Homo sapiens: one gene and its partners. The protein of the gene in region 1 binds, or shares a complex with, the protein of each later gene. Each region holds a gene or a part of one and is shown on either strand. Other genes may lie near its edges. The genes, in order: GALR1, GNAO1 and GAL. A codon is read from its position in the direction of its gene.

The links.
Region 2: the proteins of GALR1 (region 1) and GNAO1 are in contact, whole or in part, in a cryo-EM structure (PDB 7XJJ), measured with the Homo sapiens proteins. Residues at the interface, in NP_001471.2 of Homo sapiens: Thr70, Arg133, Ala136, Ile137, Ser140, Arg141, His226 (codon at 4,736), Leu227 (codon at 4,739), Leu231 (codon at 4,751), Asn233 (codon at 4,757), Ser235 (codon at 4,763), Lys236 (codon at 4,766), Lys237 (codon at 4,769), Ser238 (codon at 4,772), Ala240 (codon at 4,778), Ser241 (codon at 4,781), Lys244 (codon at 4,790), Thr245, Thr248, Leu306, Ser307, Glu308, Asn309; in NP_066268.1 of Homo sapiens: Ser264, Asn316, Glu318, Tyr320, Asp337, Asp341, Ile343, Ile344, Ala345, Asn347, Leu348, Arg349, Gly350, Cys351, Gly352, Leu353, Tyr354.
Region 3: the proteins of GALR1 (region 1) and GAL are in contact, whole or in part, in a cryo-EM structure (PDB 7WQ3), measured with the Homo sapiens proteins. Residues at the interface, in NP_001471.2 of Homo sapiens: Glu32, Gln92, Thr94, Val95, Tyr96, Leu98, Pro99, Thr100, His112, Gln174, Phe177, Arg180, Gln184, Phe186, Cys187, Trp188, Glu189, Gln190, Ile266, His267, Ala270, Phe275, Leu277, Ser281, Phe282, Arg285; in NP_057057.2 of Homo sapiens: Gly33 (codon at 6,876), Trp34 (codon at 6,879), Leu36 (codon at 6,885), Asn37 (codon at 6,888), Ser38 (codon at 6,891), Gly40 (codon at 6,897), Tyr41 (codon at 6,900), Leu42 (codon at 6,903), Leu43 (codon at 6,906), Gly44 (codon at 6,909), Pro45 (codon at 6,912), Val48.

What each region holds. Positions count from the first base shown.
Region 1 is NC_000018.10:77,251,432-77,261,464, forward strand, and holds part of GALR1 (galanin receptor type 1), read left to right. Parts: exon of another isoform or gene 1-20; intron 21-4,726; coding exon 4,727-4,792; intron 4,793-10,033. UniProt on the Homo sapiens protein: Receptor for the hormone galanin. The activity of this receptor is mediated by G proteins that inhibit adenylate cyclase activity.
Region 2 is NC_000016.10:56,334,489-56,341,488, forward strand, and holds part of GNAO1 (guanine nucleotide-binding protein G(o) subunit alpha), read left to right. Parts: intron 1-240; coding exon 241-369; intron 370-2,242; coding exon 2,243-2,372; intron 2,373-6,345; coding exon of another isoform or gene 6,346-6,499; intron 6,500-7,000. UniProt on the Homo sapiens protein: Guanine nucleotide-binding proteins (G proteins) function as transducers downstream of G protein-coupled receptors (GPCRs) in numerous signaling cascades.
Region 3 is NC_000011.10:68,678,734-68,689,245, forward strand, and holds the start of GAL (galanin peptides preproprotein), read left to right. Parts: upstream 1-5,810; 5' UTR 5,811-5,999; intron 6,000-6,190; coding exon 6,191-6,271; intron 6,272-6,860; coding exon 6,861-6,915; intron 6,916-9,107; exon of another isoform or gene 9,108-9,270; intron 9,271-9,280; coding exon 9,281-9,367; intron 9,368-10,058; exon of another isoform or gene 10,059-10,115; coding exon 10,116-10,193; intron 10,194-10,512. UniProt on the Homo sapiens protein: Endocrine hormone of the central and peripheral nervous systems that binds and activates the G protein-coupled receptors GALR1, GALR2, and GALR3.

The DNA of each region.
Region 1 (10,033 bases):
AGAGATGCTGGGGAAAGTTTGCAGTTCACTTCGCATGGTCCAGTAGAACCAGTTTCTCCTCCCCTCCCCTTCCTCGGCCCTGCGGCCCTTCAACGCCCCCAGGTTGCCTGGGCGGTAGGTAGGCGGGCGCTGCCGCATCCTTCCCGGTACAGCAAACCCCGCTCGGTTCCAGCAACTCTTCAACCAGATCAGCTGCGCGGGGAGGTTACCGCCGCGGCGCTGTGGGACCTGAGGAGAGCTCTGGTGGTCACCAGAGCGCGGACCTTTTGCGAGGGTGACGGGTCCCCACAGCTCCCTCCCGGGCTCTCAGCTGGCCGTGGCGGGGGGGACTCGCGGGGCGGCCCCTCTCCCCCGGGGTGCGCAGTTTGCCCTCGCTCCGAAGGCTTTGCGCACACCGGGCTCTGTGAAGCCGCTGCTCCCGGGGACAGAGCCTCGAATTTTATTTTATTCTGAAGCTTAGCTTTGTAAACCCAAGTGCAAAAGGGTGTTTCTTTACAGAGTCTTGACCGCAGGCTCCAGGAACTTGGAATGGAATGGACTCGAGCTTTCGGCTTCCCCATTTCAATCCTTTTTAGAAAGGTCTCCTGAACAGGGTGAAGTGGTTGAGGCGGCGGGTCTTCACCCTAACTGTAGCAGAGGCACCGTCCACGCGTGTGGGAGATAGTTTTTCCCTTTGTACAGCCGGGCAGAGCTCAGCACTCACATTCTTTTTCTCATTAAGTCCACAAGGGTTTGAAGACTTTATACTGATCAAAACGTCTTCAGCCTTTGACATACGTGTTTTTATTTGCGTAAACGGGAGCTTATTTTAATAATCAGGTGATGGCGATTCACCGGGTAAACCCTAATGTGCGCAACCTCCTCGCTCCAGAGCATCGCCATTTGAAATACAGCTGTTACCAGTTCCACCCGACTTCACCGCTGTCTCTCATTCTGTTTCAATAAGGCTGTGACTATACGACCACAAATAACCTGACTAGGTAGAACAACTATCACTTTTAATACTCAAGTCACAAGGTATTTTTATCAACAAAAGTGTTTACTATAAGCCACCTGTTTCCCCCCACCTATTTCATCTAGGTAGATTGTGTCTATTTTGAATAATAATATTGCTGGATATTATCTGAACGGCCTGCACCAAAAGGTTAAATATGAAGAAATACAGTACCACTTTGGGAGGCCGAGGTGGGTGGATCACCTGAGGTCGGGAATTCGAGACCAGCCTGACCAACAGGGTGAAACCCCGTCTCTACTAAAAATACAAATATTAGCTGGGTGTGGTGGCGGGCCCCTGTAGTCCCAGCTACTCCGGAGGCTGAGACAGAAGAATTGTTTGAACCCAAGTGACGGAGGGTGCAGTGAGCCGAAATCGTGCCACTGAACTCTAGCCTGGCTGACAACGGAGCGAGACTCTGTCTCAAAACACCACCACCACCACCACCACCACCATCACCACCACCACCATCACCACCACCACCACCACCACCACCATCACCACCACCACCACCACCACCACCATCACCACCATCACCACCACCATCACCACCATCACCACCATCACCACCACCACCACCACCACCACCACCACCACCATCACCACCATCACCACCACCACCACCACCACCAATATAGTAGCAGTAAGGGAATTTGGAAAAGAACTCTAGCTTAGCTATTTGGAAAATGGCTGGTTTATTAACGTGGTCTTCCGCAGATGCTAAACAAAGGCTATCTTACATAGCACAATTATCTGATATGTGCACCATCTCATTTAATTTGCACAACTCTGTGGCTTGGAGCTATTTTATTATTTACCCGTATTTTATTATTTAAGGAAAAAGAGCTTTGGAAAGGAACACCTGACCCAGATTATGAAGCTGGTGAATGATTCTGGAAGGATTTTAACACAGGGATTCCCAGTCTTCTGAGGACGGGACAGTTGGTGAGGCCTTGAGGACATTGAAGTCTGAGATTGAGATTCTTAACATATATGGCTGTTAAGTTCCTAATTACTGTGGAGAACTGAAGCACACGCTTCCTTATTTCCCCAAAGCCTTCAGGGAGAAGAGCTAAAATCTTCTTACTGGAAATGACAAAGTAAGATTTTAGGAGTAAATTGAATTCAGCATAATATTCATAATATTTGCAAGTTAATTTCAGGGCTGTCATGGATAGGTGGAGATTTCAGTTATTTCAAGTTGATTTTCTTTGGCTCAGGCATTAGGTGTGCACCATCCAGTTAAGGATTTTGCTACTTGAGTATTAGTTTCAGGATTAGCTGTTCCTCCAAACCCCAGGCCTTTTGGATAGCCTGAAAAAACACAGATGGCTAAAAGGGAACCTGAGGTTATGATGCTTTAAATAAACAAAAAAACTTAAGACAATTGCATTCCAGAGTTGCCTTTTGCCTCCAAATTCTCACAAGTTTGTAAGGGAGCAGTCTTTTGCACCAGACAGTTTCTGGGAAACTCATCGAATACATGGGTGGGAGGATGAGTCGAAGTGGTCTGCCCAGTGCCCCCTGAAGAGCCCTCCCCTCTGCTGCTATGGAGCTGTTCTTCACCAGGTCTGTGCCCCTCGCTCACTTCCCTTAGAGTGAATTACTGTCCAGAATCTCCTTGGTCTACCATGAGGATAAACTCAATGGGCCCACTCGACTAAGTTACTCCGAATCCCCAGGATGTAGCCAGCAGGACCTGGGTTTGGTTTGAGCTAGCACCTTCCTGTGCACACTCAGAAATTTACAGACTCACCAAGAGACCCCAGTATGTTATTATCACTCTCTTCTTAAACGTCGTCATACCCTATCATGGTACCTACATTCTTCCTCCTTTGCTGCTGAGACCTTCAGTGGGGTGCATCATAATATATCATTCTGTGCTCATAGTAGGAGCTATTGAAGAGAAGCAGAGCTAATAAAAATAGACTTGAGTATTTTCTCCATTGACCATTTAACAGCATTCAACATTCTTGGGTGTTTTGAAGTGGCTGAGCTGTGATCCGAATTCCTTTTTGGAAGGAACAATTGGAGCTCGGCAGCGTTATGAAGCTGGTCACATTTGGACATTTTGTTGTGATTTGTCCAGGTGTCCCTCTTTGATTTTGCTTGTGCGGCCTCTCCTGTTGTCTCTCCTGTGTCCTCAGTGACCAGTGTTGTCCTGTGGTTTCCCATTGGGAAGGCTGCCACTGAGCCATCTAGGCAGTCCTGTCCTCTTGGGCAGGGTCCTGCCTCCTCCAGCCCTTTCCTTCCCCTTTGAAACGCTCTCATTTGCTCCTGCAGGAAATCCCTGTTCTGTCGTTGCCTTGCATTCAGGTTTTGATACTCCCATTTCGGCTGGTAGAACAGTAAACTAACACCTTGTCAATGTATTGAGTGTTTTCCCAAATGCTCCTGCGGCACGTAAACACTTGTTTTGTTGCAGATGTTGCTGAGTCATTTCAGGAAGTGGGAAGCATTTCGGTAGGGGAGAGAATTTAAAGTCAGAAATTCACGTCCCTGGGGTGGCTGCTTGTTCACCTGCATAGGGCCTGGGCAGCTGGTAAATATATCCTGTGGCTTCCAAGTAAGGTGTGACTAATTGCTCTGAAAGTGCCTCATCTGGCTGAATGGAGCAGGCTTTTGCAATAAGTTCAATTCGATTAAATTATTTCCATGCTACAGGGAACAAAGAACTGGTTGGAACATGGCTTCCGGTTCCTTGAGAGACTTCTCAGCAATCTACAGATGCTCTAAAGCACTTAGTCGCCCTGGGGCTAGATTTTCTCTAGATTTTTCCCTCAGATGGGATATAGCAATGAACTTAAGTGACAGTTCTGCAGGCTTGACAACGTTGTCTAAGACCAAATATATGTTGGAAATTCCTACATCTAAAACCCCACATTTTCATATCATTTCTCCTGAGTATTACACTGGCAAGAAAAGACAAAAATAGTTTCTGTAATTGAGGGAGTCAGTGTGTTTCAAGGAGATTCCCTGACAGGGACATTAATTGTCAAACCTTGCAAAAATGTTCTGTAAATCATCAGTGACGCTGAATCCCCAATAAGTTGTCTGAAAGCACAGCACAGTGGGTAGGATTTGAATAAAGAATGAAAGGAAGCCTGATGGGAGGTGATTTGCCATACGGAGAATTGCAGTGGAGGCAGCCCATAAGAGGAAGGAGAAAGAATATTTTGGCACAAACGCTGGCAATATTTGGGTTGGCTGCACTGAAGAAATGTCTGATGATATTATCTTCATTTGTTTACTTGCCTGCTTTCCGCATCAGATGGTGAATTTTGGAAGGGCAAATCTCTAGTTTTTCGATGCATCCAGGATCTAACTTTGTGCCTGACATGTAGCAGGGACCTGGTGTTTATTAATATATGGGGTCCTGGAAGAAACCAAGGAAGACAATAGTGTAATAAGCACACCTGAGTGGGTCATGGCATGGCTGTTTCTGGGCAAAACCCCAGAGCTCCACGCCCTGGGCATTCTCTGCAAACAGGTGCTATGGCTGTGAACTTGTCTGGCTGTGCATCAGCCTTCCTGGCTGCTCCTAAGTGTTAGAAAAGAATGTATTTGGCAACTCATGTTCATTGTTACCTAATTACCTAATTTGAGTTTTTATTTTAATGATCTTATAAATAGTGATGTTACCATTTCAGCATGTCAATAATTGTTAATGCAACATAGGCAGTGGGTTATGAGAGGTGAGGCGAACTGATTTCAATAGTCTGTGTCTTTCAGGTCCTTAATCACTTGCATAAAAAGTTGAAGAACATGTCAAAGAAGTCTGAAGCATCCAAGAAAAAGGTAATGATCACAAATATATATATATATGTTACTTTTCAGAGCTTAGTTTACCTTTGTTTTTTTTACTTGTCCTCACGTCCATCCAAAGCCTGTAACATTTAGGACCCTTGGTGTGGCTAAGGAGGTTTGAGATGAGCCTCCCACCGTTAGGATGGGAATGGAGGGTCGGCCTTGGCAAGGGCACCGTGGGTCACTCCGTGCTGCATTCAAACTTAGCTGAAGATCTGGGGAGATGAGGAAATGCGGATTCTGCTGATTGTGCGCCTCACCAGGAGGTGAGTGCACTTAGGTTGACTGAGACAGAGTGCAGAGTGCAGAGTTGCTGACATGCATACTTAGAGGGAAAGTATAGTCATTTTGTTTTATGTTTTCAATCTCTGATGTGATTCCGAAAAGCCCTGGTTTGGTTCTTGTTTAAGACAACATTGTTATAATCCCTCCCTAAAGCCACCAGAGTGCTGGGCCATTCTTGCCTCTTTCACCCACATGTGCTGACTCTGACCCGGCAGGTAAAGACTGAAGAGTGGACAAGGCTGAAAGCAGATTCCTCCCGTTGCTAACTGACTTTCTCATCCCCCAGCCCCGATTTAAACAAGCTTCTCCTGAGTGGTATTACAGCATCTAACTTATTGATGGTCATGATATTCTACATTTTGGGGGAAAACTATTTCACAAATCAAGGTTAAATGAACTCTTACTCAGAAAATATCTATATAGCTTCTAATTTTAGGAAGTAGAATGAGATTATTAGGCAATATGACTAAGGAGTAGGAGGTTATAACCAGATATTTTAACCCAAAAGTGTAATAATAACATCTTAAAATACCTTGTTTTTTCCTTATATTTATTATGATCAATGACATACCTAATTTATAGAAATTATAGTTTAGATCATGTTTAATCATGTTTACTTAAAAATTCTACTTGAATAAAGGACAGCTCTTCCTGACTTTCCTTCTTTATGAACAGTAATGTGGCTAAAAAGCCATCTGATAGTCCAGAGTCAAAACCAGTGGTAGAGAATTGGTTATAGAGCACAAACATTAAGACTTTTTTTTTTCCCTGGCAGCAAAAAATTAGCTTATGTTAGAAATGCAATCATACAGTGTTTAGGATAACCACCTAAGAATACAAGGTGCAGTATAAATAACAAGACCATGCTATGGCTTTATTCCATTGATCCTTTCTTACATCTGAACAATTATTATGAATATTTCATTTTAGGCATCTAGGCCCCGCATTAGAGCAGCTGACCAAGTGCTAAGTTATATGAATGGAATAAACCCTGTAAGTTGGTGCTTTCCTCCTCTCTTTTTAGTGATGTGCTGTTATGGTAGAGATTTTCCATTTTTCTGGTATATCTATTGATTTTTCCTCTGAGTCACACTTCTTATTTCTAAGACAATGGTTCTTTAAAGACAATTAAGGATAGTTTCTGACTTCTCCTAGGACAGTTATTTTTAGAGCACCTGCTCTGTGTAGGACCAAGCCGATCCAGGGGATTCTAAGAGGAACTGGCTCCGCATGGAAGCCAACATTGTAATGGAAGAGATCAATGTGTGAGTCCCAGAGGCCTGTTCAAGGGGGCAGTGTTTGGAGCATCAGGGAAGGGAGAGATTAATTTCCCTTGGGAGGGATTGGGCTCGTCAAACTTTAACTGAGAAGACACCATTGATCTGTGATAAATGTGTGTTAATGATTCAAAAGATTTTATGCTTACCAAAAGAAATAAAACCAAACATTTATTTAACATTTGCTGAATCTTACTTGTGTCGATGGTAGTTTTAGTCTCCATATTTGAAAAAGTATTGGAGAGAAATTGTGAAGGTCTCAGAGAAGAACAAAATACTGAAAAAATAGGTCTTATAAAAATGATTAGAAAAGCTTCTATTTTATTTTACAATAAAAAACCTAAAGATCAGTGATTAGTTCAGTCATTAGTTATATACACATACACATATATACACAAATATTTAGATTTATGTGAGTATATGTATATATAATACATATGTGCTTACATATATACATATACTAAATATATCTATATAAAATTATCTTTTGCTTATTCTTACCATGAGGATCTAGCATTTGAAGAAGGGATGAAGATTTTCTTTTTCGTTTTCACAGCCTCTGACCCTTAACAGCTACTGAACAGATGTCAGATCTTTGTTGATGTATTTAATTGCCTCCTTGTTTGCACAGAATAAATAAATGTGGTGGTGGTGGTGGTGATGATGGTGGTGGTATTGGTGGTGGTGATGGTGGTGGGTGGTAGTGGTGGTGATGATGGTGATCATTGTGGTGATGGTGGCGATTGTGGTGGTGATGGTGGTGGTCATAGTGGGGGTGGTGGTGGTCATGGTGGTGATGGTGGTGGTCATGGTGGTGATGGTGGTGGTGGTGATGGTGGTGATGGTGGTGGTGGTCATAGTGGTGGTGGTGGTGGTCATGGTGGTGATGGTGATGGTGGTGGTGGTCATGTGATGGTGGTGCTGGTGATGGTGGTGATGGTGATGATGGTTATGGTGGTGATGATGGCAATTGTGATAGTGATGGTGGTGGTGGTGGTGGTGATGGTGGTGGTGGTCATAGTGGTGGTGGTGCTGGTGATGGTGGTGATGGTGGTGGTGATGGTGGTGGTGATGGTGGTGATGATGGTGGTCATAGTGGTGATGGTGGTGGGCGGTAGTGGTGGTGATGATGGTCATGGTGGTGATGATGGTGGTCATGGTGGTCATGGTGGCGATTGTGGTGATGGTGGTGGATGGTGGTGGTGGTCACAGTGGTGGTGGTGTTGGTGTTGGTGGTGGTCATGATGGTCATGGTGGTGATGATGGTGGTCATGGTGGTCATGGTGGCGATTGTGGTGATGGTGGTGGATGGTGGTGGTCACAGTGGTGGTGGTGTTGGTGGTGGTCATGGTGGTCATGGTGGTGATGATGGTGGTGATGATGGTGGTGATGATGGTGGTGATGATGGTGGTCATGGTGGCGATTGTGGTGATGGTGGTGGATGGTGGTGGTGGTCACAGTGGTGGTGGTGTTGGTGTTGGTGGTGGTCATGGTGGTCATGGTGGTGATGATGGTGGTGATGATGGTGGTCATGGTGGCGATTGTGGTGATGGTGGTGGATGGTGGTGGTGGTCACAGTGGTGGTGGTGTTGGTGTTGGTGGTGGTCATGGTGGTTATGGTGGTGATGATGGTCATGGTGGTGATGATGGTGATCATGGTGGTGATGGTGGTGATGGTGGCGATTGTGATGGTGATGGTGGTGGTGGTGATGGTGGTGGGTAGTGATGGTGGTGGTGGTCATAGGGGTGGTGGTGATGGTGGTGATGATGGTGGTCATGGCAGTGATGGTGATGGTGGCGATTGTGATGGTGATGGTGGTGGTGGCGATGGTGCCAGTGGTGGTGGTGACAGTGGTGGCAGTGGTGGTGGTGGCAATAGTGATGATGATGGTGGCAATTGTGGTGATGGTGGTGATGGTAATGGTGGTGGTGGTATGTGTGTGTCTAAGAAAGAGATGGGAGAGAGGAGCAGAGAAAGGGTAAGAAGAGGGTGTGGAAGCAGAGGCGTGATGAGAAGGGAGGTGGCGGAGAGAGGGGGACAGAGGCAGGAGAGGTGAGACAGGGGAGACTCGGGAAGGAAAGCAAGAATACATGGCAACTTCCCTGAAGACAGGAACTGGGTTGGTCCATCGTGGGTATTTCCCCAGGTCTCAGCACAGAAAATTGCTACTGGTGCACACGTGTTCATCATTTGATTGGTAATGGAAGATGTGACAGGGATTTGGCTACTTGTTTCCAGCCCTTTCTCTCAATGTATAAGTAAAGTTCCCTTTCTCAGCTCTGTATCCACTGGTCTTAGTACGTTCAGGCTGCTTTAAGAAAATACCATAGTCTGGGTGGCTCATAAACAATGGAAGTTTATTTCTTGCAGTCCTGAAGCTTGGAAGCCTGAAATCAAGCTCCTGCAGATTCAGTGTTTGGTGAGGGCCGTTTTCTGGTTCATAGATGGCCCCTTCTCTCTGTATCCTCACAGAGTGGAAGGTGAAAGGCAGCTCTCTGCGCCCTCTTTCATAAGGGGACTGGTCCCATTATTCATAGGGTGGGAGGTGTAAGGCAGCTCTCTGGGCCTCTTTCAAAAGGGCACTAGTCTCTGTGTCCTCATAGGGTGGGAGGTGTGAGGCAGCTCTCTAGGCCCCCATTCATAAGGGCACGGATCCCATTATGAGGGCTCCCCCCACCTCATGACCTAATTACCATCCAAAAGCCCCACCTGTTAATACCATCACCTTGGTGATTAGGTTCCAATTTATGAATTTTTTGGACGGGGTGGGGACATAAACTTTGAGATGGTGCCGCCGTCCATACGGGGCTTTCCTGTTGAGAGTTATAATTATTATGGGGTGGGGAGATTGGTCTTTCATGATAAACATGCTAACAGTTATTCTCCATGTTTGGAGCAAGTGCAAAAGAAGAATAGGATTTCTACTGCAGGAATAAAGGGCTAGGATTGATCACATGCTTTTCTTAAACTCTGCTAGACATAAAGAAATGTTTCTGGCTCAAAGCTGATTGTTAAAACCTTGGAAGACCTCAAAATGGGATAGACACCCATACTGGATGGTTGCTTCCTGGAGAAAATTGGATTAAAGGACCTCTTGATGTCCTATCAAGCCACTGGGTTCTTTTAATGTTTGCTTTTTTTGTTGTTTCTTTGGCTTAAAGTAATTCAGTAAGGTTTTTGGATGTCATTTATACAATTTGTGAGGTTTTTTTTTTTTTTATCATTCTCACCTTTTATTCAGTTCTTTTCTCCCCAGCCAAATTCCATTAGACATATTGTGAGTAAAATTCTTTGAAGAAAGAACAGACATCTCAGATGATTTGAAAAAGAGCATCTCACAATAAGAAGAGAGACTAATATTTTTTCAGATACTTTCAGCAGAAGGAGCACAAAGAAACCATGCTATTAAAAGACCTAAACTCAAGTGTAAGAAGAATTTGTATAAAGATTTAGCACATAATTTTAAACAATAATTTTTTCTCCATCAAAAGATAATGTTGAGATTCTATACGCTAAATAGACAAAGGAGGGAAGCAGTGCACACACAGGGGACATGCCCGTCTGACGGAGACGGAGGACCCTGTAAGAGAGTAGAAAGAATCACGTCATAAATAAATTTTAAAAATCAGCCTCGTCCTCCACAGAGGGGAGTTCTCTATGTTACTTTCT
Region 2 (7,000 bases), on another chromosome or scaffold:
TGTCCCGGGAGCTGCATGCGTAGCCCTTTTGGCTGTGAATGAGTGCGTGAGGCCAAGACCCCTAAGACCCACTTCCTCAGTCGCCCCCACTCCCTATGGCCTGGAATGGAGGTGATGTCTTTTCCACAGTGACCTGGAGGGGCCCTGACCGAGACTGGACTCTGAAGATGGGTGGCCTGGCCAGTCCCGAACAGTGTCCAGGCATTTGGTCCATAGTCCCCTGTTTGTTGCCATCCTCAGCTACCTGGACAGCCTGGATCGGATTGGGGCCGCCGACTACCAGCCCACCGAGCAGGACATCCTCCGAACCAGGGTCAAAACCACTGGCATCGTAGAAACCCACTTCACATTCAAGAACCTCCACTTCAGGTGAGGCCCAGAGAGGCCCCCAGGCCCTGGCGAGGGCTAAGATGGGACATGCCCAGCCTCTCAGCGCATTGCGTTTACAGCGCCCAAACATCATCCTGCCCCAGGGAACCTGCGGGCTGGGGCAGGCAGCTAGATACTAGAAGGAACCTGTCTGTGTTTCTGCCAAGGTTAGGGGCTGGAGTGAGCAGGGAGGCTTTCTGGAAGAAGATTCCCAGAGTGGGGCTGTGAGGAACAGGGAGGATTTGGACAAGGAGGGGCAGCCTGTCCCTGAGGTGACTTCCAAGGAGGAGGAGGAGGTGGGCTACCAGGGGGCCCTTCCAAGGTCACCTTGGGGGGAGGAGCCAAGAGTGGGGCTGGGTAAGCCCAAGCTACCTCTGTGAGACCCTGAGGACCCAAGTAATCCCAGAGCTGGAAGGAGCAGAGAGAGCTGACCCACCCTCTCCTAGTACGCTTGGGAAGCTGAGGCCTGACAAGAGCAGGGCTTTTCCCAGGCACAGAGCACAGCTAGAACCCAGGGGCTCTGGGGCCTCAGAGCAGGGGCCTGACGGGTGAGCTGGTTCCCAGGGTCCTGCTGCAGCGCTGTGTCCCCACCTGCAGTAACATGCGTGCACTGAGGCCTGCTCCGTCCTGTGGGGAAGAGAGGCCAGCAGAGAAGGGGAGGGCAGGGACCCCTGCTGGGAGAGCTGGATTCTAATATTCCCTGCCTCCCATGTCCCCAACTCCTGCCCGCTCCTGTTCAGACTGAGGGGCCGAGGCTCTGGGCCCAGGAACCCCTAGGCCTCCGCAGATCTGGGGAGCAAAACCTTGGGCAGAGCAGCCCTGAGGGGCCTCTCTTGCCTTCCCAGGCTCCTTGGTCTCTCCTGCTCCCCCACTGGGAGCACAGGATGGGGATCTCAGCTCAACCCAGCCCAGCAAGGCGGGGTCTGAGAATAAGCATTCTGGAGGGGCCACAGAGGCCATCTGCCAACGCCCCTGCATTTCAGATGGGGAGGTGGGATCCAGGGGAGGATCCCCTGATTGATGGAATGAGAACCAGACCCATTCCTTGCTCTGAGCCCACACTAATCTCTGCCTGCAGTCACTCCGTTGTGTCCGGTGGGACCAGAGATCCTTCCCTGTCCCCCTCTGGCAGGCTGTGTGTCAGCAGGCATCCCAGATCTAGGAGGCTACAGGACTCCTCGCTCTGGGGATTGGGGTGGGAGACTGACCTTTTACTTCCAGGACGTAAGTCCCACCTGCCCACAGTCTCTTCCAGAATTTTTGTGCCCCCTCGGGAGTAGAGTCTGAGAGGGGGAAGAGGCCAGGCTCTGATCTGCCAGAAAGGGGCCGTACTGGGCAGAGGTGAGAGCGCCAGCTTTGTCCACAGCCAGACCCAGCTCCACCACAGCTGGACTCTCGCCAGCTTGGGCATGTCCTAAGCCCATGGGTGGCTCACTTCTGCCATCCACATAACAGGTGACATCTCCTGCCTGCCTCCCTCCCAGGCTGGTTTGGAGTTTGCCCAGAGCAAACCCAGGAAGGAATAGACTGAGAGGAGGGTCCTCATGCGAGGAGGACTCTCAGAGGCACTTCCTGGGGGTGGCTCAGGTGCGCCCTCTTAGTAAAATGCTCCTCAGATGCAAGGGCAGGTCTTTGAGTCATGATCTGTGAGCACAGCCAGTCCCAGGACAGACTCCAGGGGTAGTGCCTGGGGATGGCAGTGATCCAGCTGTCTGTCATCACCTGGAGTGACAAGGTCTTCTAGTGAGGGCTTTTAGCAAGGCTCTGAGCACCATGGCCCCCATCCTCTGCCTCTCAGCGTGCTCACAGCTTAATCCCCAGGCAGCCCTCACCTGCCTGGACCCTGCGCCTACCAGCTCCCTGCCTCCTACAGGCTGTTTGACGTCGGAGGCCAGCGATCTGAACGCAAGAAGTGGATCCATTGCTTCGAGGACGTCACGGCCATCATTTTCTGTGTCGCGCTCAGCGGCTATGACCAGGTGCTCCACGAAGACGAAACCACGGTGAGTGGCCTGGGCCCCCCGGGCAGGGGGCAGCGCTGAGGAGACGGCCGCAGGATAGGCCAGCCCTCTGAGCACTGGGCCTCGGGTGCCCACAATGGCTCTGGGGTCCAGCCAGCTGTTGTGGTTAGAGGTTTCCATCATGGACAGGCCGTGCCGGCACTCCACCAATTCTGTATTGCCAAGGCAAATGCCTCATGATGCCAGTGTGGCAGAGCCTGTGTATGCAACCTGATCACACAGAGCCGTGCAGAATGTGCCTCTTCCATAAACTTGGTGGAGTCACAGAGGCCATCAGGCCATAGCAAATTTAAGCAAACCCTAAAAAAACCAGGAGGCAGCCAAGCAAGAATGTACAGGCAACAGAAATAGCAGTCTTAGCCTGACAGCCATCCCTGGGGCACTGGCGTCAGATGCTGCTGAAGCAGCATGGGGCCGGGGATGCTGAGGGAGAGGTGGGGAGGGCCCAGGATGCTGCAGGAGAGTTGCGTGGGGTTGGGGGTGCTGGGGAGCAGTGTGTGGGGCTGATGGGCCAGGAAGGGCAATGGGGATGAGGCATGCTGGTGAGTGACAGTCGTGGCTCTGGGCTCCTTTGCCAAATGCCAGACCAGGCTCCTACCTTCTGTCTTGCGTCACATTCAGCCTAGGGCCTCAGTGAGGGGACATTCCCCTGGGAGAGTGCAGCCTTCCTCTGGGTCTAGTCCTGGCTCTGCTACTCACTGGCTTGCTGCTGAATTTAGGCAGCACCCTTTCTGGCTCAGTTACTATTTTCCATAAAAGGGAGATAATAATAGTACCTGCCTGTGGGGGGCTGTTGGCAGTGGGGTGGGTGATGCGTGTGCAGCGCTCTGGAGCTGTTTCTGGGACAGCAGCGCCAAGCTGGTGGTTGTACAGTTGCTGGTGATTGCCCTGAGCCTGCAGGTCCACTGCGTGGTCCCCTTCTGGGCTGCAGCCCGCCAGGCACCGAGCATGGCCCACAGGGTCACTGGAGACAAGCCCCAACACTCCTGACAGCGGGGCCCATAGGCTATGGGGTCACAGCCTGGCGTCTGTCATCTCCTTCTGTCTGGAACACATGCAAATCCCCCACCCCACGCCTCTGAAGGCTGGCACCGAGGGTTTGAGGTTGGAGGTGGGGCTTGTTGTCATGCTGGGCCTTGAGCGAGGCCTGTCCTCTCTCTGGGTCTGTTTCCTCGTCATTTCTGGCCCAGCTGGTCCACTGGGCTTTGTGAGGATGGGATCAACTTTGGGGTGTGGGCTACGGGGCACAGTGCTATAGGGAGGAGGAGCCGCCGCCCTGAGGGGCTTACACAGAGTGATGGGGCTTTGGGCTGGTGGTGTGGGTAGTCTGGACCCGTTCCGTGTACAGGCTTACCCACCTGACTCTTCCTATTTCAGGCCCACCTGTACCCCTGACTTGGGTTTCTGCTGTAATTGTTCTCAATGGCATCTGCAGGCAGTGATGTCAGTCACCAGCCCAGTCTTGATGCTGAGTGGGGCAAGGGTGGATGCGCTTCCTGGGCCGTGCTTGGACCCAGACTCACTGACCACCCAAAGCCCAGGTCAGCTTCCTGGCCATGTGCCCCTCACAGTGACTACCCAGACATTTCCCACTCCCCACTGCTAGACTCTATGCTATTACGGCCACTGCTCCAACTCCTGGGGTCTGAGCTCCACTTGGCTCATCTTTTTTCCCCCATGTCCACCACGGTTTCAAAGAGAGCAAAGGAGCTAGAAGCAGGAAGCCAGGAGGGCCCTTCCCCCTGGAATCCAGCCTCTCCCTGGACCTGCCCTGCCAGGCCTGTGGATGGCTTCAACCCAAGTCCCAGGCCCACCGGCCATGGGGCTGGGCTCTCGCTCACCTCTGGAAGATGGAAGCAAGGGACGTCTGGGTGAGCCTAGCAGCCACAGGCCCTGAGCTCTGCAGCCCATGGGTCCCCAGTGAGCATGAGCCTGGTGCTGGGCCTGGCACTGGGTGACCTTCCAGCCTGCGGGCCTTGCTGCCTGGAGCACTTGCCCTCCGGTCTTCTCCACCTTCTCTCACCTCCCTTTTTCCCCATTTCCCCCACCCTTCCACACAAGGGCTGGAGCAGAGGACCTTGGAGAAGCCAAAGCAAATGGAGCCAAGGTCACAGGCAGGCTCTTCCTGTGTCCTTCCTTCCCCAAGGCTGGCCACCTTTGCAGCCCGGGGAAGAGTAGCAGCTCGTGCAGGGAATGGGGATGACTTTGCAACCTGACAGCAGCCACAAAGGCAGCTCATTGCCGTGGTGGCAGCAAGAACAATACTGGCGCTGTAGAACTAAGCAGTCATCGCCGTGCGCTGGGGGCGCATGCAGAGGTGGACAGCTTGGGAGTCAGACAGATCTGGTCCAGGGTCTAGCATCACCCCTGCCGCCTGTGTGATCATGGGCAACCGCCCCACCCTGCCCGGGCCTGCACCTCCTCCTCTGTAGATGGTGACAATGGTAGAATGGACCACCGGGCTAAAAGCTGTAAAAGTGCCTGTACACAGGAATCATCACTCAGTGAATAGCTCCTGTGGCTACAACATTCAGATGCCATGGCTAGAGGTCAGGTTCTAGGATGTGGGAGCTCTGTCTGCCTCAGGGAGGCAAGAGCCAGGCCCCAGGAACTCAGGCCTTGGTCCTCAGCCATCCTCTCTGGTCAGCGCTGTGCATCCCTCTCTGGCCTGGGGTGAGAGCCTGCAACAAAGGTGTCTGGAAGCAGCTTCTGGAGCCAGGCCAGGAGAGCCCTGGGGCTAGTGGCTGCCACTGGCCATCCAGCCGCCCTGTCCGCTGCATCCCGGGAGCCCGAGAGCCTGGTCCTGGCCTCGTACCTGCTCTCAGCACCGCCCAGCCGGGCCTGCGGCTGCCACAGCTTCTCCACTACCACGGTCGCCTCCACTGCCTGCAGGGCCTTATCTTGCCAAACCAAGGCCAAAACCAGTTCTGAGAGACCCTCCAAGCCCGGAAGGTATGAAGCACCTCCCTCCAACTGAATCCATCAGCTAAGAGTTGAAAGCAGCAGGTTCTCAGGGCACCGCTGGGTGACTTTGCTGTGATGCCTGCCCAGCCCGCCCCTGCGCCCACACTCCTCTCCAGCCACTTGGCCTGGGCTCATCCCACCCATCCTGCATCTCTTGCCCTGCAATCCACAGGCCCAGGATGGCCATGGCCCCTGTGAGCCCGCACCGGGCTCTCTGCAGGAGCTAGCCAGGATGCCCTGGCCCTGAGACTGGTTGAACCAATTTTTCAGTATTTTTCTCTCTTTCTCTTGTTGGGTTTTTATCTTCTCTGTTTTCATCTGTTTTGCTGTGTTTCATCTTGGGGTTCCTCTGGCCCCTCTACTGAGAAACCAGCCCCAACAACCAGTTCTCCCAGAGCCTCCCCCGCTCCAGCCCACCAACGAGACCACCAACCACACCAAGGCCACAGCAAGCTCACCCCCGAGACGCTATTCCCTGGTGTCTGCTTCCAACTCGGGATTAATTCGAGGATCTCTTAGTCCTCAGTTAATGTTTCCCAACTGAATGCGTGCACCCTTCCAACCTTGCTGTCAAAACCGAATGAGACCCTGGTAGAGAAATCTGCATGAGCAGGGTTCCGCGCAGATGCGTTCGGTGGTGGTTGCGGCCCCTGCGCTGTACGTGCATGGTGCATGTCCTCTCCGTGAGCTGGAGCCTCTCCAGTGACCTCACTGCCCCCACCTGGGGCCAGCTCTCTTTGGAAGGGGGCAGCATCCCCCAACCCTGCCCGGCCCTGCTCCGCCCCGCCCTGCCTGCGTGTGGAATGAAACAGGACCACGTCCCGTCTGTCCTTGTGGGTCCTCCCGTCTCCGTCCTGGTGGTCTCCGTCCCGGTGGTGCATCCAGCCACATTGGTGGACCTTCCCTTTGCTTGTCCCGCTGTGTCATTGGCCGCGGTGGGTCAGGGCCCTGGATGCTGCCGCCCCTCACTCACCCCTCCACTCTGTTGCAGAACCGCATGCACGAATCCCTGAAGCTTTTTGACAGCATCTGCAACAACAAATGGTTCACAGACACGTCCATCATCCTGTTTCTTAACAAGAAGGACATATTTGAAGAGAAGATCAAGAAGTCCCCGCTCACCATCTGCTTTCCTGAATATACAGGTAGAGACCCCTCCAGGGACAGCAGGCCCCCGAGGGAGCGGGCCCCGTTCCCAAAGCCCAGTCCACCCTTCCTGTGCTCTGTGGATGCCCCTGACTCTGCCACAGAGAATCCACACAAACGGTCCCCCACCCTGCCCCCAGATTGTGCTCTAGAGAGGAGGGGCAGCTAGCCGGGGCTTCCTCATCAGGGAAAGCCGGTAGAGCCCTGGCTCTGCCACTTACGAGCTGTGTGACCATGGCGGCCTCTGGGAGCCTGAGCTCCACTGTCTGCGCACAGGGGCTCTCTGTGACGAGACGAGCAAACGCCGAGAAGATGAGGGGCGGGGCACAGAGGCTTGGAGTTAGGCAGCCCAAGGTTTATGCCCCAGCTCCGCCACTCACAAGCAGCTCAGGCAGGTCATGCAGCCTCTCTGAACCTCAGTCTCTGGGTCTGTGAGATGGGGTGATGGCTGTGATTGCCCTCGCCTCCCTCACCAGGTGCTATGAAGAGGGAATGAGCTG
Region 3 (10,512 bases), on another chromosome or scaffold:
AACATTCCATGTCCCCCTCCTCCTTCAGCTCCAGAACTCAAGTGAGCTCAACATCATCCATAATAAAAGACCCTGTTTCCAACCTGTTTCCAAGCCTCTGTTGTGGCCGGGCATGACTCTGGCCAGCAAGATGCATGCAGAAAGAATCTTCCAGAAGGCTGCTTTAAAGATGGCATTCTGTTACCCAATGTCCTCAAACCTCCAAAACTTGCTCTTCCTCCTCTTCTCCCTTCTCAGCTTGCACTCGAAACTCCAATTTCTACTACCTTAACCCCTTAGTAAAAGCACCCAATTGTTTCTGTGAATGAAACAACCCTGTATAATGAACCCATTTAACAAGGTTCTGTCGAATAATCGAATACATATATTAAAAACTCATTCATAGAATGGTATAATTCTATCCATTGATACAACTTTCACCTTAGCCAGATCCTTTGCCAGCTACTCATTTTTTTAGGGGAGCGACTCTAGGGTCTTTTTTCATGACTGCTGTGTTACTGGAGTGGGGCTGGGTGGCGTGGAAATCAGGGAATGGGGGAATCAAGGACACAGACATTTGCAGGGTCAAAGAAATGCCAATTTTAGGTCATCGAGCCATTTCCTCATTTCTTGAGTAGTAACGAGATGGTCGTGGGACTGATAGGTGGTATCGTTCGTCACGTTATCGTCCAAACCTCTCCCTCTGATGAGCCCGTCTTGCAGACATGAGCTTCTCAGCAGCGGTGGAGGTGGTGTACCCTCTCACGTGTTTTTATTCATTCATTCATTCATTCATCAAACATTTGTTGACCACTGTGAAACTGATTGGAACAATTCCTACCGCACGTGATGGAAAACCTCTATGGGCCATTGGCTTAAATAAGAGAGATGCTTCTTCTCCTCTGTTGTGAAACAAGCCTGGAAGTGTGCAGCCCAGGGACCAGGCTCAGGGTCACTGGGACCCAGGCTCCCTCGGCCTTGATGTGTCACCTGAAGCCATCACCTCATGGTCCAAATTCGTTGCCCACCTCCAGCCTTCACGTCCACACTCCAGGCAGCAGGAAGAAGGAATGGAAAAGGACCAAAAAGGGGGCGTACCCATGTAACCCCCTCCACCTGGAGTGTGCTGGACCTCATTCTGTACCCAGTCAGTCCTGCTCACCTGTCAGGTTCAGCTCCCCTAATCCATGCATCTCCTTCCCACGACAATGGGGTGGTTATTTGTACAATAACCATTTGTTGCATACAGTTGGCCCTCCATGTCCACAGTGGGTTGGTTCCAGGAAACCCCTGGCCACGCAAATACCGAAATCCGTGGATGCTCAAGTCCCTTATATAAAATGGCATAGTATTTGCATATAACCTACGCACATCTTCCCATATGCTTTATTTTTAATTTAACTTTTTTATTTTTGAGATGAAGTCTCACTCTGTCACCCAGATGCTGGAGTGCAGTGGCGCCGTTTCGGCTCACTGCAACCTCTGCCTCCCGGGTTCAGTTGTACAAGTGATTCTCCTGCCTCAGCGTCCCGAGTAGCTGGGATTACAGATGTCCGCCACCACATCTGGCTGAGTTTTTGTATATGTAGTAGAGAGAGGGTTTTGGCATGTTGGCCAGGCTGGTCTCGAACTCCTGACCTCAAGTGATCTGCCCGCCTCGGCCTCCCAAAGTGTTGTGATTACAGGCATAAGCCACCGCGATGGCCCTCCCACATGCTTTAAATCATCTCTAGATTACTTATAATACTGAGTATAATGTAAATGCTACATGAATAGTTGTTATACCGTATTGTTTAGGAAATAATGACAAGGAAAAAAGTCTGTACGTATTCGTACAGAGAAACCCATCCTAGGCCTACCTACAAGGACCCAGTCCATAGTGGGTTGAACCCACAGCCAGGGAACTCACAGATACAGAGGGGCCAACTGTAATGGGTCTCCGTGAGGGTCTAACTCCGCAAGGGCAGGGACCCTGCTGCTGATTTCACCACTGCAGCTCCACTGCCAGGCAATGGACGGTTGAGCTCCCGTGCAGTGGGCATGGCCCAGGTGACCCTTGACCCTTGCTTGAGTTCTCAGCTTCAGGGTGGTTTTTCCTGGTGGTGGACAGCGCTTCTAAGGAAGATGGGCTGGCTCGAAGGCAGCGGGGGACATCAGGCTTTCTGCTTGATTTCGATTACTCTAATGGTGACCCACTTTGTCTGCTGCACACTGGGCTGTCTTCAAGATGACAGGTTGACAATGACTGCCATTGGGTCATTACTGAGCAAAGAGCCATTAGCACACTGGCTGTGGTTCCAGCACAGTCTGTGCCGGGAGGCAGGTGTCTGTCATCCCAGGTGTGCTGGCCTCATTTGTCTGAAGGAATCTGCCGACCTCAGGAAACCCCAGCACGCCTTCAGGCCACTGCCTTGCTTGTCTGTAGCCTTCCCATGGTCACCGCACTTCCGGGCCAGGGTCCCAGCCAGGGTTTATACCGAGACCCACTCACCCAGACTAAGCGGGAAGCAAGACGGTGGGTGTCATCCCACGTGGAAAAAGAACTTAGGGACCTGGAGGAATCAGGCATGGGCATGTTTATTTTGAATACATGTGTCTAATTATTCAATGGAGCTTTCTTAAATGAATTCAAAATACATGTGAAGATTTGTTTCCAGTTGCTTAATGTCTTTTTAATAAGGAGGCTCTGACCAGATAACCTACCCTGAAATTTCTTTTTCGTTTGTTTTTTGTTTTTTGTTTTTCGAGACGGAGTCTCGCTCTGTCACCCAGGCTGGAGTGCAGTGGCACGATCTAGGCTCACTGCAAGCTCCGCCTCCTGGGTTCACGCCATTCTCCTGCCTCAGCCTCCCAAATAGCTGGGACCACAGGCGCCTGCCACCACTCCCGGCTAATTTTTTGTATTTTTGGTAGAGACGGGGTTTCACCATGTTAGCCAGGATGGTCTCGATCTCCTGACCTTGTGATCCACCCGCCTTGGCCTCCCAAAGTGCTGGGATTACAGGCATGAGCCACCGCACCCGGCCTGAAATTTATTTTTCTTTTTTTCCTTTCTCTTTCCTCACTTTCCTTCCTTCTCTTTTCTTCTTCTCCTTCTCCTCCTCGTCCTCCTCCTTCTTCTTCTTCTTTCTTCTTCTTCCCTTCTCTCTCTCTCTCTCTCTCTCTCCCTCCCTCCCTCCTTCTTTCTTTCTTGACAGAGACTTGCTCTGTTGCCTATGCTGGAGTGCAGGCTTGATCGTGGCTCACTGTAGCCTCAACCTCCTGGGCTCAGGTGATCCTCCCACCTCAGCCTCCTGAGCTGAGTAGCTGGGACTACAGGCACGTGCCATCATGCTTGGCTGATTTTTAAAAAATATTTATTTATTTATTTTTAGTAGAGATGAGGCCTTGCTATGTTGCCCCAGCTGGTCTTGGACTCCAGGGCTCAAGTGATCTATCTACTCACCTCAGCCTCCCAAAATGCTGGGATTACAAGCGTGAGCCACTGCGCCCAGTCTGAAGTTTCTTTGAAAGCAAAAAAGGAAACAAAAAGAGTACATAGGCCCAAATGAAGACAGCTGAAAGTTTAATGTACCTCAAATTCCAGCCCATGACTAAGGGATGGACTTTGAGTCTCTTTTCGAATCCATCTCAAGGATTTAGGTTTAGAGTTTGTGCTCCTTTAAACAGACTAAGAGCCTCTGTGACAAAGTAAATAGAGAAAATAAGTGTAGTCAAGCTCTGGCAGGATTTGGAAGGGGGCCTAACGTGGAAGAAAGGAGAAGGCTGGAATTGACTAAGATGTGCTATGCACTGGGCTGGATTTGTTCTCAGCAGAAAGCAAGAAAGAGCTCTGGGATGGTAGCAGGGCTCCCACTACCACCGGGGGCCAAAGGTTGCAGTATTTCTCAGGTAGCCAAGAGGCACCCATGAGCCCAGCCCCTGCCCACTCCCTGATGTCATCTAGACACAAGGACATGGGGCATGAGAGGACATCATTGTCACTTCTCTGCAGAGTCACAGGAACGTGCCCTCTGCTCCTCCGCCTCTCGGCTGTCCTTCTGCCCACGGCTGGCCCAGACTCTCATGGCGACTCACTGTCTCCCACGCCCCCACTCCCGGCAGGAAACCACTTCAGGGTTTACTGTGGGCTCCGAAATCAGCCTGTGAGTCCTAGTTAGGGTCCCCTGTGCCTGACTCTCCTCTCCCCAGGCTGCAAGAAATAGGGATGACCAGAAGTCAAACTGTGCCCTTGGGAACACCCCACCCCTCACCACTGTCGTGCCAGGAGTCTGTTCCTAAGACCCCTCCCCAAGTCCTGTCTCCTCCTCTTCCTCCCATAAACCACAGCAGACACTCAGCCACCAGGCTGCAGCCCTGCACCTTCTCCAGCAGCCGCTGGCCTTCGCCAGAGTTCTTGAAAGCCCAGTTGTCCTTCCCCAGCCACGTGGAGGCAGACGGATCTCTCCTGGGGGCAGCCTGTAGCTGTCTGTGCAAAGGTTCCCAAGACTAAAGTGTAGAGGACAGGTAAGATGACACTGTCATGATCATCATTCGTCCTGTGCCCTGTGGACATCAACCCACAGATGTGACATCAACCCATCTGATATTGAGCCCAGTGGGTGGGGAGATCCTAACCCAGCTGCTGCTGTTGAGGACTTGGGTGGTGTCTGGCCAGTGGGAGGGGAGGTCAGGCGAGTTTTCAGCAGATGACCCCGTGCTCTTCGGAAGCCCGGAGGTGCCACACTGTACAAGTGTGATGCCTGGGATCCTGTGCTCCCCTGATGCCTGGGAATGGGGTGAAGGAACAGCCTAGGCTTGGGTTCTCTCCTGGGTTGTTTCGGGACTTGGCCCCAGCTCAGGAAGGGTTTGTGGAGGAGCCAAGGAGGGCCTTGTTCCTGTGGGATGTCTTTGCCTTGGGCACAAGGACAGCCTCTTGCTGCTGCTCTGCCCACCGCCCACCCCTTGGCGGCCTCTGGGAGTCTGGGCTGCTCTCCCTCTGGACCTAACCAGTTGCCCAATGGCTGGACCTGCTTAAAGCTCCCTCTTACAACTGGACCAGGCAGCCAGGGGAGGCACTGAGAGGCCGAGCTTCTGAGCTGGTGCCTGTGGATGCTCGACGGTCCCGCAGCTCCCACAATGGGATGGCCAAGCAGACCCTGAGATCCACAGCCCCCCTTTAGTGAAACAGGAGGGAGGTCGCTGGGCACAGGGAGCCGGGAACGCCTGCCCTCCCCGCCATCGACGGCTCCCGAGGCCTGAACCTTCGCTCCAGCCCCAGCACAAGCCGGCCAGGGCGCAGGGCCAAGTGTTGCCCGCCATTCCCCGGGTACCCCATGACCTCCCAGCTGGGGCTGGCTCGGACTGAGGAGTCGTCCCTGCCCGTCACCCTCTGGGGTCTCCAGTGCTGCGGAGCTCAGCTGGCTTTTGCAGCGGTAGGGGCTGGGAGGAGAAGCTGCAGGGAGACCGCAGGCGTGGGACGTTGTGGGGGGTCAGGCTTGCTCTGGGGCTGGGACCCCGGGGGGAGCAGTGGGGTTGACGCCACAGCGATGACTTGGGCCACGGGTCTGGGGGCTCTCCCGCGGGGCGATTGGGCTCTGTCTTTCGGGATTAGGGTCTCTCCCACAGGGTTTGGGGTTCTCTCTGCAGATTTGGGGGAGTCTCTCCCGCGGGATGAGGGGGGGCTCTCCGCCGCACCCGCCTATGATGGCCCAGAGGACCCGAGCTCGGGTCACTCCCGTCGCCCTCGGGGCTCGGCGAGGGTGCAGGAGGCGGGCGCTGAGCCGGTGACGCGACTCCGGGCGGCTCCCGGGTGCGCCGCATATATAGCAGCGGCGGCGGTGGCGGCGGCCACACCGGGCGGCGGACACGTGGAGGGACCCGGCCCGCGCCTTCTGCCCCTGCTGCCGGCCGCGCCATGCGGTGAGCGCCCCAGGCCGCCAGAGCCCACCCGACCCGGCCCGACGCCCGGACCTGCCGCCCAGACCCGCCACCGCACCCGGACCCCGACGCTCCGAACCCGGGCGCAGCCGCAGCTCAAGGTACTACTGGCGCCGGGCCGACCCTGCGCCCCCGGGAGGCCTCCCCTTCGGCTTTCCTCTGCCCAGGGACGGTTCTGCCAGGGCCCTGGCCCGGCCGCCGCCTCTGCTCCTCCCCGCAGCCCCGGCACTCCTTGCCTCGGGGCGCAGCCCACTCCGGGTTCCGACCCGCCCGCCCTGTCCTTCCCTTCCAGATGGCCCGAGGCAGCGCCCTCCTGCTCGCCTCCCTCCTCCTCGCCGCGGCCCTTTCTGCCTCTGCGGGGCTCTGGTCGCCGGTAAGTGCGGGGCGCGTCTCCTCCGAGCGAAGGGGACATCAGAGCCGGCCGGGCGTGGAGGGCTTCCTGGAGGAGGCAGCCTCCGCCCTGCCCGCGGGGATGGGGGTGGAAAGTGGAAAGGCGGGCGCTGTCCTGGCTGCGGGCGTCGCGGGAAGGGTCCGGGGCTCCCTGGGATTCCCCCCGCGCGCTTCTCCGAGTGTATCAACAGCCCCGGGCTATAACCAGGCCGCCGGGAGAGCTCTGCGCTTCGGGTCAGCGCCTCGGGAAAGCGAGAAGCTCGCCCGTTCCGCAGGGCTTAGTTAGAATGGAGGGCTAGGAGCCACTGGCGTGGCCTCAGCGTCACTAAAGCAGGTGCAGTGCGCTGAGAGTGCGCGGGCTCAGGCCCTCAAGTGAAGTATTTCGTAAATAAAGTGGTTCCATTTTCATGTCAAATATAGCCGACTTAGGGGTAAACCTGGAATTTCGCGAGCTATCCAAAAGCACATGCATTGTTCTAAGTCCTCTGCCATGCCGGGAAAGCCTGGGTGCACCCATTCAGCATAGGCTCCAGGCACAGCCCTGGCATCTGATCCCCTTTTCTCCCTTCAAGGCCAAGGAAAAACGAGGCTGGACCCTGAACAGCGCGGGCTACCTGCTGGGCCCACGTAAGTGACTGACAGCATGGCCTCCCCACTCCTGACCCCACCTGCCCCTCGCTTTGAACCCTGGCTCCTGCCCCTCCGCCTGCGGCTGGGCAGACCCTCTGGCCTCCCTCTTGACCTCATTGCCCGTCTCCATTGCTCTGCACACTTGATCTGTGTACGGTTCTTTCCAGAAGCTTCTCCTGCCCCGGCTCTGCCGCCCTGTCCCGGGGTGAGATTCCCACCCTGGGCTTTGCTCAAGTTCTCCTGGGCTTTCCCGCCTTGCAGTCCTTACAGGCCCTGTTCTGGGCCTCTCCCCAGGCCCCCGGGTCTCCCAAAACACTCAACTCCTCGGCTTGCAGAGCACCCTAGGTCAGCGGACCCCAAATCCTGCCTCCCTCTTCCCTTTCTCCAAGCTCCACACGGGAATTGCCAGATCGCCTGAAGGCAGCCCAGACAGGCTCCCCTCAAAACAAGGTTCAGGTGACCCTGCCTGCCCAAGCCTGTGTCCCCTCCCTCTCCCTGTCCTGTTGTTGTCACCTGTGTCAGCGGTGTCCCCTGCTGCCTGAGGTGAGCCCTAGCCCTAGATGGGACACTGCAGGCTGACACCTCCCCGTGTCCGCCCCCGCCCCTGTCCCAGGCCTCTACTTTCTCCACATCCTTGGTCTGTGCAGCAATGCCTTCTGACTTTCCTCCAAAGGAGGGGACAAGAGGAGGCCTTGGTTCCCTCCTGTAACTCACCTTCCCCTCCACACCTCACCATCCACCTTAAAAGCCTCCCTGTACTGCCTTCTGCCAGAGGAAGGATGTGAACAGCACGCAGGGCCTATCTGAGCCCCGCGGAGCAGCAAATGGGGAGAATGGTGCTCTTCTCCCCATGCCAAGGAAAGCTGACTTAGTTCTCAGTCCCAGAGTCGAATACAGCTTCCTCCTCCTGCAGACGCTTGTTTATCGGGGTCACTCAGAGGACCCCCAGAGTCAGGCTTTAAGAAACAGACACGGGGATGACAGAGCCGCCTGAGGCCGCGTGCGGATCGGTCCAGGCTGTTCACCACAGAGCCTGCTGGTCTCTGTGCGGCCCTCTCATCCTCTCCCTGCCCATGGAGTGGCCTGACCTGCCTGAGGGTCGGCTGATTTCCTCAACCCTTTGCAACCCTGAGCTCTGCCACTCAGAGGGCACCTCATCTTTGTGTGCTACGGGCCCAAAACAAAGGCAGAACTGGTCAATGAGAACATTTATCTGTGTTGCTTTGGAATATTGAAAATCTATTTGTCAAGAAGAGTTTGACCCCTAATTAGAAAACAAACTCATTTTCGCCATCAATTTTACGGCCCTGTTCAGCTGTAGCTAGACGAGTTGTTTGTCAAAATACTTAAAAATGTGCCTTTGATTTCTAGGATCTGCTAGAAATGCAGCAAAAGCAATGTTTTTGCACCAGCTGCTGCTGAACGCAGTGTGGCCGTGGCTGAGGGTGCATCAGTGACATGAGGCGACCTATGATTCCTCTATAAATTTAGCACCAAGAACGGCATCTCTGGAAATACGCGTTAATTCTCCTTTGTCTGGCCTTGTAGATGGCACAGTCCACCCAGGCCAACCAGCTGGAAACACAGAGGCGTCCTCACCCTCGTCCCCATCTCTCATTTCCATTTCCTTTCCTGCACAGCCCCAAATCCAGCCCTCCTCTTCACCCCACGCCTCTTGGTTTACAGCCTTCATCGTTTCTTCCCTGGAATTCTGGGATCTCTGTGCTTGCAATCACAGTTCCTCCATTTTCGCACCACGAAACACACCCACACACACACGGGAACGCACACACGCTCCTGCACCCCCCACCCCCATCCTGTCTCCCTCTGTGACCCTCTCGCTCCCTCTGTCTCTCTCCTTCTCTCTCTCTGGCTCCAGTCCATCTTGCACACAGCTGCCAGAGTGAAAATAAAAATCAGATTCAGTCACAACTTAAACTCTTCAGCGTCCCCCATGCTTTCAGGGACATGAGGACCCAGCTCCTGTTGTCTGCCAGGGAGTCACCCAGTTTGATGCCAGCTCAGTGCCAGCTCAGATGCCAGCTCCTCTGGACCCAGGCGCAACCCCTGCAACAGGGCAGGTTCTGGGCCTCTCCCCCACTTCAGGAGCCACACCTCCCTTTCTCCCACCCACCCTGTGCAAACCCTCACATTCCCTTTGACCCTGGTGTGAGCGGCCAAGCTCTTACCTCAGCTGGGTGGAGAATCGCTCCCTCTGCTCTGGTGTCTGTCCCTGGGCTCTATTTCACAGTCGAGTTGCGTGTGTGTGTTGGCTACAGGCAGCCCTGTGTCCTTCTTTGGGTGTGGGGAGGGCGTGCATGACAGTCACACCCAGAGGCTTTCCTCTCTGATCTGCAAACAGATGCCGTTGGCAACCACAGGTCATTCAGCGACAAGAATGGCCTCACCAGCAAGCGGGAGCTGCGGCCCGAAGATGACATGAAACCAGGTGAGAGGACTCCTATCCCGGGCCCCGGGGCACCTCACTTCCACCAGCTCCCAGGTGCATGCAGGGGACAGCTGTGGGTGTCGGGGCTGTCCACAGCTGCAGCCCAAGCCTGGCCATGACTTGACTAAGACGATGTGGCCTCGCCACACCTGTCAGCAGCTGCAAACAGAACGTGCAAACCCGAGACAGCAAGGGGTCCTTCTAGGCTGGGAGGCTGCCCAGGCACCAGGGCCTCCAGAAGAGCGGGACTGGGCACGATGGCTCCTGCCTGTAATCCCAGCACTCTGGGAGGCTGATGCGGGTGGATCACCTGAGGTCTGGAGTTCAAGACCAGCCTGGCCAACATGGCAAAACCCTGTCTCTACCAAAAATATAAAAATTAGCCAGGCGTGGTGGTGGGTGCCTGTCATCCCAGCTACTTGGGAGGCAGAGGCTCGAGAATCACTTGAACCTGGGAGGCGGAGGTTGCAGTGAGCCAAGATCATGACACTGCATTCCAGCCTAGGCAACAGAGTGAGACTCCATCTCAATTAAAAAGAAGAAGAAGAAGAAAAGCGAGGCCTCGAACTGGATATCTCCCCAACTCCCTCACATTGAACAAGGGCCTTGGAAAGCACAGCAGGGCCTCAGGCTGCTGGGATCAGATCATTGACCTTGCAGCGCCCAGCTCCTCTGTAGGGAGGGGGATGACCTGAGACACTGAAGCACCCTCTGCACAAGTCGTGAATGTTGATCTTTTCTCTTCTAGGAAGCTTTGACAGGTCCATACCTGAAAACAATATCATGCGCACAATCATTGAGTTTCTGTCTTTCTTGCATCTCAAAGGTATGTGAAATATCATCAACTTAACATTCATCTCTTAGTACACTGGAAACGTAAAAGGCCCATCGAGAAGAGAACCCATAGAATCCCCCTGGGAAGTAGCCGATTACTTATCTACGTACAAAGTCCTGTTTGGCTGTGTGTCGGGATAACAGAGAATGTAACACTAGAGCTAGCTCCAGAGGGCTGGGATTGCGGCAGGGGCATTCTACCGTCGTGGAGGGCCATCGGGCCAGCGCTGGTCCCAGGAAGAGAGTGGGCCTCAGGGTGCAGCTCATTCTACTGGAACCATATCTATTCACACGGTGACAACTGCTGTACC